Linked DNA regions of Homo sapiens: region 2 is linked to region 1. A link means that fine-mapping ties the variant in region 1 to the expression of a gene that starts in the linked region. Tissue or cell type: whole blood. Region 1 holds a variant in brackets; the other region holds the start of a gene. All regions are shown on one strand. Distances are between the middles of the regions.

The links. PIP is the estimated chance that this variant, and not a neighbour inherited with it, causes the effect.
Region 2: PTPRA starts here. The variant in region 1 is fine-mapped to the expression of PTPRA in whole blood (TOPMed, PIP above 0.99).

The regions. Positions count from the first base shown.
Region 1 is chr20:3,030,871-3,033,624 of GRCh38, reverse strand. All of the region lies in intron 20 of PTPRA (protein tyrosine phosphatase receptor type A), which reads right to left. Among named protein-coding and RNA genes, the nearest start is that of GNRH2, 11 kb to the left of the region's middle. The variant G/A (reference allele first, on the strand shown) is at 1,132.
Region 2 is chr20:2,872,076-2,874,702 of GRCh38, reverse strand. It overlaps PTPRA (protein tyrosine phosphatase receptor type A), which reads right to left and starts at 1,222. Exons shown (of 24, transcript NM_001385305.1): 1 at 943-1,222. RefSeq lists silencers at 749-1,028, 1,039-1,088, 1,269-1,338, 1,959-2,098 and enhancers at 583-1,212, 1,213-1,844, 1,845-2,474, 2,475-2,627.

The sequences.
Region 1 (2,754 bases):
TGGCCTCAAACAGGATTTGTAAGACAAGGAGTGACAATGATTTATATTTTCAAAAGGACCAGCAGCTGCCATTTGAAAAACTAAAAGTGGGTTAGGATGAGAGCAGGAGGACCAGTTGCCAGGCCACTGCAGACGAGGCTGCGCATATGAGTCATGCCCACAGTCCCACGGGCAAGCAGTGAGAGACGAGGGCTTGTTCAGATGACAGCAGTTACGCTGGAGAAAAGTGGGGAGGCTCTGCCTGTATCAGGACTCAGTGGCAGACTGGATGTGAGGGGTGAGGAGAGGGGAGGAAGGAAGGTAACTCCCGGATTTTAGACATGAGCAACTGGGCAGAAGGTGGTACTATTTATTTAGATGGCTAAGAGTGGGGTGGACTGGTGTCGGGGGAAGGAGGAAATCAGGAGCCCACATTGGGAAGGGGGACAGGTGACTGGCCTAGAGACGCAGATTGAGGATCCCTGGCATATGGGTTGTACTTAAAGCCATAGGACTGGCTGAGATCCTGAAGGGCTAGTGTGTCAAAAGAAAACAGAGTGGGCTAGCGCCCGAGTCTAGTATACTCCAATGTTTTAGAGGAGGAGGTCACAAAGAAATAACAAAGGAGCTGCCAGGTTAGTGAGTGGGGTGATGCTACGGAAGTAAGTGTTCTGAGGAAGAGGAGGGAGGTACTGACTCTTTCAAATGCTGCTGTAAGGACAAAAAAAAAAAAATCAGAAAAGAGAAATGACCTTTGGATTTGGCAAGAGGACAGTCACTGGTGATCTTGACTAAAGCAGTCCCAGTGGGGCCAAGCCTGGAAGGAACAGAGCGAACAGAGAACTTGCAGGGAGAAAGCCAACTCTTTTTTTTTTTTTTTTGAGATGGAGTCTCACTCTGCCACCAGGCTGGAATGCAGTGGCGCGATCTTGGCTCATTGCAACCTTCAGCTCCCTGGTTCAAACGATTCTCCTGCCTCAGCCTCCCGAGTAGCTGGGATCACAGGCATGCACCATCGCGCCCAGCTAATTTTTGTATTTTTAGTAGAGATGGGGTTTTGCCATGTTGGCCAGGCTGGTCTCGATCTCCTGACTTTGTGATCCGCCCACCTTGGCCTCCCAAAGTGCTGGGATTACAGGCGTGAGCCACCGC[G/A]CCCGGCCGAAAGCCAACTCTTTAAAGGAGTTTTGCTGGGAAGGGGTGCAGAGAAATAGGATAGTAGGTGGAAGGGAAAGTGAGATTAGCAGATTTTTTGTTTTTAAAAGATAGGAAATGTAACATGTATAGGCTGATGAGAGTAGTGGTTAAAGAGGGGAACTGCTGATGGAGGTGGGAGAGAAGATGGTTATAGCAGCAACATCCCTGAGCAGGCAGGACGGAATGGGGCCAAGAGCACAGTGGACAGGTGGATTGAGAGATGCAGAAACCCTTTTCCACTGTAACAAGAGAGAATAGAGTTGGTACAGATTTGAAGAGGCTGGTTGTTTGGGGGTGGGAGGATGACAGTGTTCTTGTCTGATTTCTTGGAGAAGAATGAGGCCAGGTCACAAGCTAAGGTGTGAGTATGATGGGACAGGCAAGAGCAGATGCTGGAGGTTTCAGGAAGAAAAGAAAGAGCAATAGCATTGCTAGGTGGCACCAATTACCTCTATGAGATTTGTGGTCATGAGTTCAGTGTGAGAGCATTTGGCACTGTTTTGTGTTTTTGCCCAGTGATGTTTGCTATATCAGATAGAGGCATATAACTGGGTTTTACTAGAGAGTTTGCTATGAAAGTAAGAAAGCATGAGGGAATAAGGAAAGGTAATAATGACATACCACAAAAACTCAAATCAGAAAACTCAAACGCTCAAAAACAGAACTCAAAAACACACAGAGTAAGGAGGAAGGTGAGGACATGTTCGGTGTGACTGATGTTGAGAAAGTGGAGGCATCAATAACTCTAAGGACTTGATGAAGACAAAAATGACTGGAATAAAAGAGAATACTGAGGTGGGAGGAAGGAGGCAGTAAACAGGGCGGATGCCTTGTTGAGATTCCAAGGGCAGTGCAGATACAGGGCAGATGGTGACTTGACCATGGGATCAGGTGGCTGAGGAAGCTGAGGAATAGAAAGATTGAGGATAGATGGATCATCCACATGGTGACTGATGCCTCCAAAAGCAGAGTCAGGAACAGGGGCTCAAAAGGAGCAGTAAGCCAGGTGTTAAAGTCATCAGTGGGTGAGGGACAGAAGATGGGGAATGGGGATTCAAGACCAGTAGAAGAAAAGCTGGGGACTGGAGTTTCATCTCAGATTTGTGTGTTCACGTTACGGCCTCTAGATAATAGCATCTTAAAGAAGTGAAACAGGGAAGGTTTTCTGTCTTTTCTCCTACTTTGTCTTTCCACCAGATAGCATGAAGTCTCTTATGTCTTATGTCTCTTATGAGGTCTAAGGCGGACATGGTGATGGGGACACACAGCTTTGTGAAGACTAATGCTATCAGGTTTCACTATGCTTTAGAGAAGCAGGATGAGGCCTAGGGTTGGGCTAGGCCTAGGGTTGACCCAGCATGGGAGTTCCTGGCACTGCTCTGTCTGCCCAGGCTGATGATGGTCCAAGCTGCAGCTGCTGAGGGAACCCAGGCATCCTGGTGGACCCTTTTGATTAAAATAGAGCAGAAGGAGGCCAGGCGCAATGGCTCATGCCTGTAATCTTAGCACTCTGGGAGGCTAAGGCGGGCGGATCACTTGGGGTCAGGAGTTTGAGACCAGCATGGCCAACATGACGAAACC
Region 2 (2,627 bases), 160 kb after region 1:
TGTTTCTGAAAGGAGTGGCCAGGCAGGAAGATGTTCGCCCTTTCCTAGTCAGTCCTCCTCTCGCCCACCATCTTCTGTTTCTCAGGCTGCCTGCACAGCTAGCAGGTGGCAAACGAAGCCATCTCCAGGGTGATGTGGACTGGTTCTAGAGCCGGAATCCCTCTCCTGAGCAAAGGCTTCTGATGGCGTTCACCCTGCAGAGGGTGGATTTGCACATTCTTCTTTTCCTGTCTTACAAATATCATCAGTGATCTCAAAAATAAAAACGAAACCCTCAAGACAGGACTCTGCTCTGCTATTTTTTTTTTTTAATCTTCAGGAGATATAATTAGTAACTAATTTTTTCAAAAAAAATTTTTTATTTACCGAAAGTAAAAAGGGAGGGGACCTGCGTTCTCAATTGGCCTATTCTGAATTCTGGGCAGCTCTCAGCCCTTATTTCCCTTCTTAAACAGCCTCAACAGTTGGGAGAGGGCGGCAAGGAGAGGGGCCTGGGAGACGGGCCGGGGGACCGAGGGAGGTGGACTTGAAGGGAAAGAAAAGTTGGTCACTGCAAAAGCAAATTTTCTCATGCCAAGAGTTTTCCTCTTTCCTCCCATTAAATGGACCTGAGCAAATTCTGTTCTCGCCGTTCTAAGTTTCTTCTCTGAGAATCAACTCTGGCAGTGCCCTGGCCTGGTCCCAGAAGGACGCATGCAAAGTTCCTGGGCAGTCGCGAGGGGTCGGCACTCGGGCCGGCACGTTTCCGGGGACCCCCTCCCCGCGACGGACCCGCAAGGATGCACAATCAACCTGCAGGCGCCCGCAGGCTTCTACCCGGAAAAGATGGCTTAGGGCTTCGGGCTCCGGGCTCTGGGCTGTGGCCCGGGACCCCTCCCACCGCCCCCGGGAGCCGCTCCCCCTTCCGGAGCCCACCCGGGCGCAGCGGCCGCGAACACTCACAGAGTCGGGCGTTGGGCGGGACCGCTGGGGACGAGGACAGCGGCTCCGCCTCGGCTCCGCGGCGGCGTTTCGGGCCGCCACTAGCCCTCAGGGCCGCCGCCCGGCCCGCGGCTCCGAGCCCCGCGGCGGCGGCGGCGGCCTCGCCTCCATGGCGAGGGGAAGCGGCTGAGGGGCGACTGGGCGGGCGACAGTGATGGCGGCAGCGGCCGGGGTCCGAGCGCGATCGCGCGCGCGCGCGTCTCTGTCAGCGCCGCACTCGCCGCAGCCTCGCTCCCGACCCGGCCTTGGCTGTAAGACGCGTGTTCATTGGCTGTTCAGAGACAGGCGCTGGTTGGCCGACAGCGAACGGGCGTCTCCGGCCCGCGCGGGCCCCGCCCTTGCGCTCCGCTGGGCGCTCACTTGCCGGCTGGGGCGCCGAACCCGGTCGCACGTTCTCCTGGTAGCTCCAGAGGGGTTCGCCCCGGGGCTGCCCAGTCCTTCGGGAAGCTGGACCCCGGAAGGACCGGCTGCGAGTGCACCAGTGCCTTCAGCCATTCTACAGTCACAGGCCTCATGACTTGGGCCTTCTTCCCAGTTTACAGATCAGGAAACCGAGGCCAGGCACAAACTACACCAATGTCTAGCCACCAGGGCGGCCTGCAACTCGAGAGCCATCTTCCTAACCCTCTCCAAACGTGATACTGTGGGTCTTTTTTTTCCCTCCCCTAATTGCTGCAAAGAACGACGGATCTCACTGGGGAGGGAGAGGAACCTGCCAAGTCCCTAGAACGGATCTGGCTCCGTGGGTGTCGTCTTATATCAAGTCAGCCCACGCCGTCCCCACCCGAGCTCCAGGGTAATCTCCCCCGCTTTCCAGATGCGCATGCTGGGGCCCCGCTCGCCACCGAGCTGAGTAGAAGCACAACACATGGTGCTCTGCGATGGAGGTGCCTTTTGCGATACGCCTGGCGGGGGAGGGGAGGCTCAAAACGCAGAGAGGAGCCAGAGTGCGCCCTCCCCCGGCCGGGGTTGGGGCGCGTACCCCCTTCCCGGCGCTCCCGGCACGGCGTCTGGTGCGTGACACCCGCGAAGCAATCGCTCAGTCCATCCAGCGGCAGCAGGTTCCTACACGGATCCCCGCGGGTGCTGCAGGACCTGAGCGTCTGCGGCTGAAAGCCGATTACGCAGTCGAGATAGGTGGTGGCAAATGCGACATTTCGCCGGGTTGTGATCCCCAGTAGGGACCCCTGGACATTCCGAGACCCGCGCAGGGCGAGCGGCTGGGCGTCTGCAGGCAAAAGACAGATTGCACAGTAGCGCACAAACCGAGCTTGCGGGTAGGGGACGCTTTATCCCAGACCCAGAGTCTGCGGTTCCCGGGGTAGGTGGCGGCGAGTCTCTCCTCCAGACCGGGCAACCCCTGAGTCCCCCTCACGCACCCCAGGCCGGAAGGAGTCCCACATTCGGGGCGCCCCCGGGGAAGGGTTGTGACCGGCGGCAACTCTTCATGGCAGGAAACACTGCGGCGCAAAAGGGGCTCCCAGCAGCCCCCACCATCTCCAGTCCTACCATCTCCGGTCCCCACCACCGCCTTCTGTTGGGGCGCCAGTTAGGGACTCTGTGCCCCACTCCTCCGTATTGTGGGCTCACATCAGCAGCCCCTACCATCTCCAGTCCTACCATCTCCGGTCCCCACCACCGCCTTC